Linked DNA regions of Homo sapiens. The protein of the gene in region 3 interacts with the protein of the main gene of each other region in a pairwise test. Each region holds a gene or a part of one and is shown on either strand. Other genes may lie near its edges.

The links.
Region 1: the proteins of C11orf58 (region 3) and RNF19A interact in a two-hybrid assay, tested with the Homo sapiens proteins (one large-scale study listed by BioGRID and IntAct).
Region 2: the proteins of C11orf58 (region 3) and CEP126 interact in a two-hybrid assay, tested with the Homo sapiens proteins (one large-scale study listed by BioGRID and IntAct).
Region 4: the proteins of C11orf58 (region 3) and SNCAIP interact in a two-hybrid assay, tested with the Homo sapiens proteins (one large-scale study listed by BioGRID and IntAct).

What each region holds. Positions count from the first base shown.
Region 1 is NC_000008.11:100,303,454-100,306,953, reverse strand, and holds part of RNF19A (E3 ubiquitin-protein ligase RNF19A), read left to right. Parts: intron 1-3,500. UniProt on the Homo sapiens protein: E3 ubiquitin-protein ligase which accepts ubiquitin from E2 ubiquitin-conjugating enzymes UBE2L3 and UBE2L6 in the form of a thioester and then directly transfers the ubiquitin to targeted substrates, such as SNCAIP or CASR.
Region 2 is NC_000011.10:101,913,722-101,917,809, forward strand, and holds the start of CEP126 (centrosomal protein of 126 kDa), read left to right. Parts: upstream 1-1,288; 5' UTR 1,289-1,563; coding exon 1,564-1,691; intron 1,692-2,297; exon of another isoform or gene 2,298-2,801; intron 2,802-4,088. UniProt on the Homo sapiens protein: Participates in cytokinesis. Necessary for microtubules and mitotic spindle organization. Involved in primary cilium formation.
Region 3 is NC_000011.10:16,755,647-16,758,840, forward strand, and holds the end of C11orf58 (small acidic protein), read left to right. Parts: 3' UTR 1-2,694; downstream 2,695-3,194.
Region 4 is NC_000005.10:122,448,237-122,451,736, forward strand, and holds part of SNCAIP (synphilin-1), read left to right. Parts: intron 1-1,608; coding exon 1,609-1,701; intron 1,702-2,296; coding exon 2,297-3,365; intron 3,366-3,500. UniProt on the Homo sapiens protein: Isoform 2 inhibits the ubiquitin ligase activity of SIAH1 and inhibits proteasomal degradation of target proteins. Isoform 2 inhibits autoubiquitination and proteasomal degradation of SIAH1, and thereby increases cellular levels of SIAH.

The DNA of each region.
Region 1 (3,500 bases), on a different chromosome or scaffold from region 3:
TACTTCAGCTTAAAAGCTATTTATCAAAATATTCATCTTACTACTTACGGAGAATAGCTAAATTTTTCTTTACTTAGGAATTTTTTTTCTCCAACTAGGAGTAATTATGAATTTTCTTTTTTTAAGCCATGCCAGTTCTCTGTTAGTAGATAGAAGATGTCTAACATTGAAACAACTCATTTACTTAACCGTACCTGCACAGCTAAAGACTAAGGGATAATATTTCCTTGCTGAACATACCTGTATTTCAGATGGTGGTAGGCTTCAACCAAACAGGCAGTGAAATCACTTTGGGTGTTTAAAACTTGTGTACTTCATTTGTTTCTCAAAAGTTATCATATGTCAGTGATACTTTCTATATCAAAGTGGAAAAAGTAACACTTCTTGATAAAGGAGGTTTTGCTTGCATTGCTCTCTTTATCACTGTCATTAACACCTGAAGAATTATTTTTATTGATAACTTTTTTAAAAAGCTATGCCATTAGCCTTAAAACCATTATGTAGTCTTATCCTATTGATGTTATCTAGTATTTTATTTTATAAATCATTTACTAAAGAATTACTGTTAATTTGTTTTAGAAGTCCTATTAGGAAAGGTTTTGTTACATGAAACTCTCAATATGACAGAAGTGTTCAGTTGTTTTAACTCTGAAATAAGTTTGTGCATTGAATTCTGAAGCAAAAATCCTGCTCAGAAATCACCTTAGCTTGTTTACGCCCAAAAGAAACTTCGAAACTGAGTCTTTGGTTCAAAAAACTGGAGTTGGCCCCATGAAATTATGTATACTTAGCATTTTTAACTTCTGTCCTGTTGGGGAGACCCCTGAGGATAAAAATAGTCCTTATGATTTGAATAGCAGGCAGGTTGCCAATTGAAGAGACTTTGGTAGAAGTGAGCCATAAGGAGGGAGCCAGAGTTGTTAGAGGGAAGGAGCAAGAAACCAGGAGAAGCTTTTGGGAATGTGATGATGTTAGGTTTCCAGATAAATATTATATAACGTATTAATATAAATATTGTATCACAAAAATAAGCTCATTATCATGAATCTGTTGATTTATATTTTGTGATTTCTAAGTCACGTATTGGTATTTGCCCCTGAAAATGGTAAGGTATCCTAAATTAAGTTATTCTAATGCATAATCACAAATGAGACTATGTGAAATGTGCAGAAGTATAGGAGCTAATGCAAGCTCTGTGATGGCAGGGACCATTTTCTTTGTTCACTCTTTAAGTCTTAGCACTTAGCATAAGCCTGACAATAAAAGATGTCGAATAAGTATTTGCTAATAGAATTAAAGTATCTACAATCTAAGGTATTTATTTTATAACTATCTCTTCAGCAGTGTTGTCCAATAGAAATACAATGTGAGCCACAAATATAATTTAAAATTTTCTAGTGCCACATTAAAGAAGTAAAAGGAAACAGGCAAAATTAGTTTTCATAATGCATTTAAGCCAATAGATCTGAAAGATTATCATGAGTGACTTTACGTACTTTTATTCATATTGGACAGCGTAGCTCTAGGGGCGTTTTGTATGACATGTTTCTTTCTGCAGAACTTGTCTTTTTGTAGTCTTTTTCTAACTGATTGATGTGTCTTTTGAGGCCAAATACAGAATTGCATACACCTTCGAATTGGAGTTATTGAGTTGGATTGAAAGTCAGGCTACCTGTCTTCTCTCAGTTTTACATCTCCGCACAAAATGACTTTGCGCGTTACTGTCTTTCCCAATGTATAATCCTGTAATCCCAGCAGTATGGGGAGCTGAGGCAGGCAGATCATTTGAGGTCGGGCAAGACTAGCCTGACCAACATGGTGAAACCCTGCCTCTACTAAAAAATACAAAAATTTGCTGGGCTTGGTGGCAGGCACCTGTCATGCCAGCTACTAGGGAGGCTGAGGCAGGAGAATTGCTTGAACTTGGGAGGTAGAGGTTGCAGTGAGCTGAGATTGTGCCACTGTACTCCAGCCTGAGCAACAGAGCAAGACACCATCTCTAAAATAAAATAAGGAAGGATATTCATCATCTTTTTCATTGGATTAGTATAAGTTAATTATGCCTTTGAAACACTCTGGGCTACTCAGACAAGACTGTTATAAAAGAGATCCTCTAATTATTAGTAACTAGTCAGAGCAAGGCTCAGTGTAAAAAACAGGATAGAAGTTCCCATGAGACTGGTGCATATAGAATGTACTGTTACCTCCCACATTGGAATCAGTAACAATAAATCAATACAAGATGCTCTTAAATAGAATCAGGAGAGGCGACTAGGTTGGTTTGAGCACCAGATTTTAAACCTCTCATCTATTTAATATTGCCTGAACAAATCTGTTTTTCAGTTTTTGTATGGAATAAATGGGACTTTTTATATAGGCATCCTTAAATAAAATCATGAAATAAGGTCATTTGGAAAGTGGAGGTGGGAACTGGTAAGTAATGTGAGTGCGTAAGTGGGGGTGGGAACTGGTAAGTAGTGTGAGTGCGTAAGTGGGGAAAATAAAGTAACCATTTAGAAAAGCCTGTTATCTTAGGGTATATGATGTATATAGTACAATGACTGTAATTCTTTTATCCAAAGCAAGGGTGGCAGTGGTTACCTGGTAGGCAGTTGTGACTTCTGGTTGTATACATAGCCATATCAAATAGATTTCTCCTTATAGCCATACCCTTTAATATAAAACCAACTTTTGTCAGGCATGGTGACTCATGCTTGTAATTCCAGCACTTTGGGAGGCCAAGGTGGGCAAATCACCTGAGGTTAGGAGTTCGAGACCAGCCTGGCCAACATGGTGAAACCCTGTCTCTACTAAAAATACAAAAAAAAATTTACCTAGGTATGGTGGTGGGCACCTGCAGTTCCAGCTACTTGGGAGGCTGAGGCAGGAGAATTGCTCCAACCTGAGAGGTGGAGGTTATAGTGAGCCGAGATTGCGACATTGCACTCCAGGCAGGGTGACAAGCAAATCTGTGTCTCAAAAATAAAAATAAATAAATAAATAAAAACTTTTTTTTGGAGACAGAGTTTCACTCTGTCACCCAGGCTGGAGTGCAGTGACGCAATCTTGGCTTACTGCACCCTCCGCCTCCCAGGCTGAAACGATTCTCATTCCTCAGCCTGCCAGTAGCTGGGATTACAGGCACCTGCCACCACACCCAGCTAATCATTTTTTTTTTTTTTTTTTTTTTTTACAAGCGGCGAGGTTTTGCCATGTTGGCCAGGCTGATTTCGAACTCCTGGACTCAAGTGATCCGCCCACGTCAGCCTTCCAAAGTGCTGGGATTACAGGCGTGAGCCACTGCACCTGGCCCATTTTTAAAATTATGCACAAACGTTAAATATCCTTTAGATTTTTGCATAATTTAGCATACCTTACTGATGTCCTTAGCAAAAATTTCCAGAACCATATTTTAGTGTGTTGCATGGTAACCCCACAAAAGATATGTTCATGTCCTAATCCCCAGAATCTGCAAATGTTATTTGGAAAAAGGGGTTTTG
Region 2 (4,088 bases), about 85 Mb from region 3:
GCCTAAATATTCCAAATAGCAACTCTAATATTCTCATATTCATCTGTACTTTGCACTGCCCTACTTTACTCAGATCACCCATGGGGAGACAAACGTGTGATGACAGCAGTGGGAATAGAATCAAGGCCATTGCCTGTGGCTAGGCCAATTAAAAACTTGCCAAGATAGCCAAGTGTCCAGTTGTATACATTTAGCTTTTCATGTCAGAATTGTATATTTTATCCTGTTGGTATGCTTCTGAAGGAGAGTTCATGTGTTTTGTGTCTTAAATCGAAACTGGATTTGTTGTGGCACTTTAAAATCTGTCGCCAGTGTACATTCCAATTTGAGTCATTGCAACCAAGTTTGCAAAGATTGTTTTAAACAGTTTCAACTGGAAAAGTTTATTATTTGAAATCTTAAAATGAACAAATTAATTCACAAAGGCAGAGACATTTGAATGGTGGGTGAATAATCTTTATTTGGTCTGTACTTTCTGCTTCCAATCTGGGAATTTTTCCAAGAAAACACTGACTGAAATACAGTCAGAATTTATATATGCATTTACATTAGGCTCCAACAATAAGATTCAGCCTTTTTCAAAACTGTCACTTGCATAGCCAATAAACTAGTGTCTCAAAAATCCATTTAATTTTCCATACTTCCCAAAACCATTTCAATGCGATGATCTCTTTTGGCATATCTTCCCAAGAGATTGCTAGTTTTGCTGTGATGGTCCATTTCCAGAATCTGGCAGCAATGCGAGAACCATTAGGAGGCTTTGAAATGTAGACCTTCTAAGTAGGGCAAAGGCAAGGAAGACGACTGCAGAGGGAATGCCAGAAGCATTACCGAGTGGATGAGAGAATGCAGGGAAGGAAAATTTCCACTTCACAAAGACATTTTAAAGAGACGGTGTTTGGGGATGATGATGCCACAGAAAGACTCACAACTCAAAATCTCACAACAGGATTCAGTAGTTTAACAAATTCAACTCCAAATTGTCCCCCAGACAATCACTGCAGACTCCTCCCGGTGGCAATTGCCTGTATCTGAGGATTTTACATCTGTCTTTCGTCACTGTCGGTACTGCCACAAAAACACTCTCATAAAAAGGGAGGCAGAACTGCATCAGGCTCTAAAACAACACTCAGCTCACCCCTCGCGCAACAACCCGGGTCCCTAGGGATGCTTGGGTTGCCACCCGCCGCTCGAAGCTGGAGGGGCCGCCGGAGCCTGCGATTGGCTGCTTCGGGCACATCGTCCCGCCCCGACCTGTAGCTCCTCCCAGGTTTCCGTTGTCAAGGACGCGCCGTCGGTTGTTGTCAAGATGGCGGCTGCAGGGTTGCTGCCGCCCCATCTGCTATTGCCCGGCGAGGTCGCCGCTGCCTCAGCTGCCATCGCCGCTACAGGCACCAGTGCCGCTGCGCGGGAGCTAGGGCTGTCGAGGCCAACCCTTCCGCGCCCGTGACGCGGGGCCTGAGAGACGGAGTGTAGGGAGGGGCCGAGCAGGAGGAGGAGGAAGCCGGAGCTGCCATGAGGGAGGTTCTGGGGGCGAGCAGACAGGCGGCGCTGAAGTGAAGGATGCTGGCGGGGAGGCCCGGAACCCGGAGCGCGGTCGGGGAACTGGGCACTGAATCATCGGACAACCTCGACAGAGCCCCCCTCGGCCCTCGGGAGAGCGGCGGGCATCACCGACCTGGCTCTTACCTGTATCCTTCCCAGCCTGTGGCTGCCAGGGTAGCGATGTTGAAAACGGGGCCCATCTTTTTCCAATTAGATTCCCATTACCTTTGACGCAGGGTGATCAAAACTAGCAAGTCATCTTAGTGCAGATATTTCCTTTAGCAACTGTCGTGTCTCACCTTAGACCTGAAATTATACCATTTTATCTAATTCTGTGGCTGCTTCCCCCCATCACCCTGTTATCCTACTCCCATTCTTCAACTTTGTAAAATTTTTGTGAATTTTAAAACACATCAACTGTGTATTCTGTGGGGATATTTTTATGCCATTATGTTCTTTACTTACATATTAACTACTTCCTGATTTATCGTACTACTTGGAGAGAGAAATTACACAAATAAGTAAAATGTTTTGCTATCCTAAAGAGTCCGTTTTAACAGTTATCCTAACACAGCCCTAAATGCATTTACCAGAGCTGCTAAAGGCTACACAGTTTGGTAAGTTGTTTTGTTTTCCATCTCTGCCCAGTCTGTTGTCAGAGCGACAGAAAAGAGGAAATGAGAAACAGGGGACCTGGACGCTTTACAATCTGGATTAACTCTGACTTTTCTCGAAGAGTTGGTTAAGCCTACCTTTGATGTTGCTGTTGGTTGCATTGTAGAAAATGGAAAGAGGAGAAGTATTTTGTTATCAAAATCTGTAAATCAGGTTTATTCCTTTAGAGACTGTTGTGATGATTAGGATTTAACCTTTGTATTCCCAAAGGACTTGGTTGGCAATGATGGTGTTGTGTAATCATCTTCAGTCTTGTCAGAGATGAGTGTCTTCTCTTTCCAAGTTAACTCTGTTTTCTTATCCCCTTTGTCTCCAATTTCTAGGATGTTCTTTGTACTCTGTTACAATTTTAGCAGCAAGTCAACAATTTGTATTGAGTGCCTGCTCTTTGGCTGACTCTGTTCTAGGTTCTAGGGATACAAATCTAGTGAGGAAGACAAATGTGTATAGAGCTTCACTAAAAGTAAAATATCTCTTCTCCGATCATGCTTTCTGCAATCTTCCATCCCTTCAGTCTTTTCTTTCTTTGGGCAGGTTCTCAAAATGGTAGCTTGCAATAGCTGCTTCTAGTTCCTCTCATCTATTCATTATTAACCCCATTCAGTTTGGCTTTTGCCCTTGCTGCTCCCCAAAATTGCCCTCTTAAAGGTTACTCTGAAATGAACACAATCATTTTCTGTATGGATTTAATTCTGGCCTCTTGACATTATATTTTCTTGGACACAACTGCTATTACACGACCCTGATTTATCTCTAAATCAGAAAATAGGGAAGTATTGTAAATGGCTCATTGAGAGTGTATTTTCTGTTATTTTCATTAATAAAATGGTTGTAGGCCTCATTTTTTAAATTTTATGTGGTATAAATTTTTGATACAAATGCCAAAGAAAATATTCATAAATAGAATCCAGCAATACTTTGAATGAACACAACCAAATAGACTCTATTCCAGAATTAGAATGACATTTCCTATAAAGAAATACAACACTAAAAAAGATCCTTAAAGGCTAAATATATAGTTAAAATTAGGCAAGTTATAAATGAACATTTTAATAGATGACCAATAGACTTTGATAAAATCCAACAATGTGTGTGTGTGTGTGTGTGTGTGTGTGTGTGTGTGTGTGTGTGTGTGCTGGTTTATATATATTTTTGCTAGTTTGCATATGTGTGTATATATATGTTTAGATAATATATATTTAAATTGGAACAGAGGAATTATTTTTGAACATAATAAAGATTATAACACTAAATCAAGAACATTATGTTTGCTAGCTGGAAAAACACTAAAGTACCTTTTATATAAGTTTAATTGGAATGTTCTTTGTGTCTATAATGTTTCCCATTGGATACCTAGCACAGAGTAGGTGCTCAAATTTACATGACTAAATGAAAAAAAGGAAAGAAAGCAAATGAAAGGACCACAGCCTTAAAATAAGCAAGTATGTGGTAACATTTACATTTCAATTTCAAATATGAACATGATACTCAGAGGCCATCTGGCTTTCTGTTGAAGACATTTTCTCACTGGAGTCAGAATTTTCTGACTCTAAAGGTTATAAAACAACAAAACCTTATGAAGTTTATTTAATTAAAATTAGCTAAAGTTCTGTCATTTCAATCTCTTTTTCTCTTTTGAGAGTTCAAATAGAAATGGAATTTAAAAAAAAAAAAAAAAGGAAGGTCTCTCATGTCCCCTTATACCTGCCTTTTTTTCCTCATAAATATCTCTACCCTTCAACCCTCCCATTTTATCCTAGCACCCACCTTGCCTCTCCTTTCCTCTCCAGTTTATACCCTATTCTTAACTATTTGAACTTTCTCTCACCAACATCTTTGGCTATTTGTACCCCAATCATTCTGCCTCA
Region 3 (3,194 bases):
CACTTGTTAAGATGGAGTTATAACTGTCATACATTTGGAATATTATGATCCCAAGTAGTCTTTTTATAATTTGGATTGTATCGTATGTTAGATTTTTGATAAAATTTGGCCAATTTTTACAGAAGAAATTCTCTGATCATTTAGTTCTGTCTATTTAGAAATATGTAAAACTGGATTTTTTTTTAAGTAATATGTGACCAAAGTTAATTTTGTCCCAAAGGTCTAAATAAAGAGCAGTTTCCCATATTTGGCTGTGATACCTTTATCCTCATTATCTACAAATGAGGAACAGGCTTACTGATAAGAAGCTGAAACAAGAAATTCTCTTCATTTTATCCCAGTGCTATTTTATTGATTAATTACTAAAAAGTATTACTTTCTAATTTTATTGCTGTTTCTGTTGGTGTGAGATTAGAATCATCTGACTGCTATTAGGTGGTTGATTTGTATAGCTGATTAACACAAATTGCATTATGAGCTAGTAAATGGATCTTTGGATAATGGGGTCCAAATTCTTAATGTTTATAAGTAACAAGTTCAAAGGCTTTAGTCACACCTGTTTGTGAGCTGAGCTATTATACATCTACATACTTAAAGGATGTATTTGGAGTGTTGGATTTTTTTTTTTTTTTTTTTTTTTTGAGACGGAGTCTCATTCTGTCGCCCAGGCTGGAGTGCAGTGGCGCGATCTCAGCTAACTGCAACCTCTGCCTCCCAGGTTCAAGCGATTCTCCTGCCTCAGCCTCCCAAGTAGTTGGGACTACAGTCATGTGCCACTACTCCTGGCTAATTTTTTGTATTTTTAGTAGAGTTGGGGTTTCACGGTGTTAGCCAGGATCGTCTCGATCTCCTGACCTCGTGATCCACCCACCTTGGCCTCCCAAAGTGCTGGGATTACAGGCGTGAGCCACCACGCCCAGCCTTGGAGTGTTGGAATTTTTAAAAATTATTCTTATGTCACTTTGAAATGTAGAACGTGTTGCCATGTGCGGTGGCTCACACCTATAATCCCAGCACTTTGGGAGGCCGAGGTGGCTGGATCACCTGAAGTCAGGAGTTTGAGACCAGCCTGACCAACATGGAGAAACCCCATCTCTACTAAAAATACAAAATTAGCTGGGCGTGGTGGTGCATGCCTGTAATCCCAGCTACTCAGGAGGCTGAGGCAGGAGAATCACTTGAACCCAGGAAGCGGAGGTTGCAGTGAGCCAAGATCACCCCATTGCACTCCAGCCTGGGCAACAAGAGCAAAACTCCATCTCAAAAAAAAAAAAAAAAAAAATTTAGAATGTGTTAGAGAAATTTAACAAGTAGAACAGGTGATTTCTGGTTGATAGACTCTATCTTGCAGTATATTTATTTCATGTATCAGACCCCAAAGTTGTTGCCTTGTTATTTTTTTAATTTCTCACATTTTTGAAAAATAGATGCTATCCTCTATAGTAAAATATTGAATCACTTTATAGTAGACAATACATATGACATTTAACAAATACTTGGTTTGAAAAAGTTTGGCTTTATTCAACAATTTTAGTTTGCCCACTGATTTTCAAATGTCTGTGGGATTGCTTATAACTAAGTAGAAAGTGAAGACTGATTTTTACTTAAGAATGGGATAGAGATGAGTTTTATGGTTTTTAAAAGTATTTTCAGTTCATTATTTAAATGTTGGGTTGTTGATATGGTCTTGTTTCTGATAAGGAAATAGGAGCAACTTGTTTTAAAATAACTACACTAAAAGACTTTCTTCATCTCCGTATAGAGAAATCCAGATTTCAATTAATTCATTTATTGGGTGCTAACAAAATTCAGGGTTAGAGTAAATTTAGGTCTGTTGGTCCATGTGGCCTGGTTTCCTAGCACCCATTAAACATAATGCTATCTTTTAAGCCTGAACATGTGGGTTTTTTAAATCAAATTGGAAAAAAATTAGACAACTGATGTCATGCTGTCTTGGTATCCATACTAAAAAAGTATCAGGAAAATAGATTATTTTTGTGCTGTGAAACACTATTCAGTGGAAAGTTTAGTGGCAACTTTTCCATATCATTCATGACTTAATACCTGAAATGCACTTTTAAATGTTTGCCTTATATCCAAGTGTTTACTTGTATCCATGACCTAACCGTCTATTGAAAAGAATGTTTGCAGATGCAGATTGCAATGTTGTTTGTATTCATAGGCAAAAGTCCTCTTCTCTAGTATAATTTTTTAAATCTGAGAGAATTGAAGGTACAGAAAAAAATTCTGGAGTGCCTGAACCACAGTTTGAGAGCACAAAGGTCACATTCTTTCAGTAAATTTGGGGGAAATAAATTTCAGCTACCTGGTTAGCTTCAGTGACTACTTACACACAGGGCTTTGGTTCCATTACTTGTTTCCACCACAGCCACATCCTAAATACTTGGAATATCCGAAAACAACTTCTAAAATCACTCAATAAAAGTATTCACTTCTAACCAACTCCTCCTCCTTTATACCTGCTCTGTGTTAGGGCGTAGTCTGTTTCCACCTCTGTAAGTCCTATCTAGGCTTCCTGATCTATCAATTCAGTATCATGATTGTTAACCCAAACGACTTCCTGGAAAATTCCCAGCCCTAGATGTATCCAAGCCCTCCTACCCTCACCAGTTATTTCTGGAGAAAGATCACCAAATGTATAAATCCGTATTAGTAAAAATTGGTTTTAACTGACCTCAGCACTGCCCATTACCCTTATTTTCTCTAGTCGGTTCTCCATTCTTACTATGTAAAACTTATACTCTGAAACTTGTTACCCTCTTTTTTTCCTTCACTCTTAACATGTCCTTGCCTTCTATCTTACATAAAAATAGAGACCTTCAGGCACAAATTCCCTGAACTTCACTTACTAAATCCACAGCCATGGACAAGATTCTGTGCTCTAGGTTGTGACATCCCAACTCTACCACAGGGCTAAACTCGGTGACCTTGAGCATAAGTTGATCTCTCTGGGTCTCCTTTCTGGGTAAGTAAAATGAGGATAGTAACAGTAACCCCCTTTGCATAGTTAGTTATTGTGAGACTTAGGTAAAATGAACAAAAAGCTTAGTGCATAGATAAGTGATCAGTAAGTGCTGGCTCCTGGTTCCCACCACCCCCTCTGCCGCCCCGAGATGGGGTCCTGCTCTGTCACCCAAGCTGGAGTTCAGCAGCATGATCATGGTCATGGCTCA
Region 4 (3,500 bases), on a different chromosome or scaffold from region 3:
TGTCATTTTTTTCTGCTAATTGTATTATTATAATAGTTTTCTATTGCTCTGTAACAAATTACCACAAGATTAGTGGCTTAAAACAGCATCAAATTTATCTTACAGTTCTGTGGGTCAAGCCAAGCTAGGCAGAACACACCTGTAGTCCCCACTACTTGGGAAGCTGAGGAGGGAGCATCACTTGAGCCAGGGGTTCAAGTCCAGCCTGAGAAGCATAGCAAGACTCTGTCTCTAAAAATATTTTTAATTAAAAAATTTTTTAATTCAAACAATTTAGGAAAAGTAAATATAACATTTTGAAGTATATCCTTCCATATTTTTTATATATATATATCCTTCCATATTTTATATATATTTTTATATATATTATATATATTTTTATATATATAATATATATTATATGTTATATATATTTTTATATATATTATATATATTATATATGTTATATATATATTATATATATTATATACATATATATAATATATATGTTTTATATATATATATACACACACACACATACATGTGGGAAAGACAGAGTTAGTTTTCTTAAAAATGAGATTACAAGGTCAGGAGATCGAGACCATCCCGACTAACAAGGTGAAACCCCATCTCTACTAAAAATACAAAAAATTAGCTGGGCGGAGTGGCGGGTGCCTGTAGTCCCAGTTACTCGGGAGGCTGAGGCAGGAGAATGGCGTGAACCCGGGAGGCGGAGCTTCCAGTGAGCCGAGATAGCACCACTGCAGTCCGGCCTGGGCAAAAGAGCAAGACTCCGACTCAAAAAAAAAAATGAGGTTACAGATGCTCCTAAATTTACCGTGGGTTTACATCCCAATGAACACATCACAAATTGAAAATATCATAAGGTAAAAATGCATTTAATACACCTAACCTGTAGAACATCGTATCCTAGCCTAGCCTACCTTAAGCGTGTTCAGACCACTTACATTAGCCTACAGTTGGGCAAAATCATCTAACACAAATTGTACTTTATGATAAAGTTTTAATATCCCATGTAATGTATTGACTACTGTACTGAAAGTGAGAAAGAATGGCTGTATGGATACTCAAAGTACAGTTTCTACTGAATCCATATCACTTTCTCACCACTGTAAATTTGAAAAATCACAAGTTATAGTAAGTCAGAGATTGTATGCTGCAAATAGTATTTTGTAGTTTCCTTTTTTATTTAATGAAAGTAAAGTATACTTCATATATACATATTTATATATATGAAACTATGCTTTATATCTACATTATATAGACATAATTAGGAAGACTTCTTCTATGTCCATAGATACTCAAACATATTATCATTTTAATAGCTGTCATTATAGAAATAATTATAATTTGTTCACTGAGACTTACTGCTAAGCATTTAGGTTACTTATAATTTTTCATTAATATTGACAATACATATCTTTTTGGGGTACTTTTGATTGTTTCCTTAGGAAAATTTCTGAACCTGTAAGGATGAATATTATGCACATTTTAAGGCTTTTGTATTTATTGCAACTTACTGGAAATTATTACGAAAAATATTATACACCCTAATTTATAGCAGTAACCAGTATCAGAGTCCTCATGTGTTTTGGTTGTTTTCCCCAGACAAACAGTAGAACGTGTCACGCTGCAGAACCAACTCCAACAATTTCTAGAAGCCCAGAAATCAGAGGGCAAGTCACTCCCTTCTTCACCCAGGTAATACCAGCACATTGTTGTTTAGCATTCTTAAGTATCCTAAATTGTTAAGCCTTCTTCTGAACTTCCTTTGATATATTTTAAGAGGATGACAACAGAAAACATTTTCTTCTTATAAAGAGGAATAAAAATGAGAAATCACAGTGAAAAAGGCACTGGACCTAGAGTCTGAAGACCTGCTGTATTCTCTGATTCTGCTATTTCTTCATTCCACGACTATAAACAAGTCATTTACTCTTTTGTAAGAATTGAATCTTTCAATTCTTCATCTGTGAAGTGGGAATAGGAGATATATATATATAGCTTGATAAGTTTGTTGAAAATGGAATTAACTGAGAAAATTTATGCAAAATTGATGTATAAACAGTAAAACAGACAAATTTAGTAGTCATGGTAGTTATAGCCGAAGGCATAAGGCACCTTATAGCTGATACTATGGAGTATTTGCACATTGTTTCGAAAAGAAATTATGTACTTATCTGTATTCTGTTCTTATTTACTTATACATTATTAGTGTCAGTAAAGACCATGTAGTGACTTGAGTCATTTCAACCCAGTAGGAAATCATCTCATATGTCCTTCATCTTCTTTTTAGTTCACCATCCTCACCTGCCTCCAGAAAGTCCCAGTGGAAATCTCCAGATGCAGATGATGATTCTGTAGCCAAAAGCAAGCCAGGAGTCCAAGAGGGGATTCAGGTTCTTGGAAGCCTGTCAGCCTCCAGCCGGGCTAGACCCAAAGCAAAAGATGAAGATTCTGATAAAATCTTACGCCAGTTATTGGGAAAGGAAATCTCAGAAAATGTCTGCACCCAGGAAAAACTGTCCTTGGAATTCCAGGATGCTCAGGCTTCCTCTAGAAATTCTAAAAAGATCCCACTGGAGAAGAGGGAACTGAAGTTAGCCAGGCTGAGACAGCTGATGCAGAGGTCACTGAGTGAGTCTGACACAGACTCCAACAACTCTGAGGACCCCAAGACTACCCCAGTGAGGAAGGCTGACCGACCAAGGCCGCAGCCCATTGTAGAAAGCGTAGAGAGTATGGACAGCGCAGAAAGCCTGCACCTGATGATTAAGAAACACACCTTGGCATCAGGGGGACGCAGGTTTCCTTTCAGCATCAAGGCCTCCAAATCCCTGGATGGCCACAGCCCATCTCCCACCTCAGAGAGCAGCGAACCAGACTTAGAATCCCAGTATCCAGGCTCAGGGAGTATTCCTCCAAACCAGCCCTCTGGTGACCCTCAGCAGCCCAGCCCTGACAGTACTGCTGCCCAGAAAGTTGCCACAAGTCCCAAGAGTGCCCTCAAGTCTCCATCTTCCAAGCGTAGGACATCTCAGAACTTAAAACTGAGAGTTACCTTTGAGGAGCCTGTGGTGCAGATGGAGCAGCCTAGCCTTGAACTGAATGGAGAAAAAGACAAAGATAAGGGCAGGACTCTCCAGCGGACCTCCACAAGTAACGAATCGGGGGATCAACTGAAAAGGCCTTTTGGAGCCTTTCGATCTATCATGGAGACACTAAGTGGCAACCAAAACAATAATAATAACTACCAGGCAGCCAACCAGCTGAAAACCTCTACATTGCCCTTGACCTCACTTGGGAGGAAGACAGATGCCAAGGGAAACCCTGCCAGCTCCGCTAGCAAAGGAAAGAATAAGGCAGTAAGTGCTATTTGGAGAATATTCTTTTTTTTCCTTCAAATGGATTATGTTGTTCCTAATATCACAGATTGTGGGCCCACACTACCTTGAGGGAATCCCCAGGAAAAAAAAAAATCCAAAGGGATGCATGGAAAG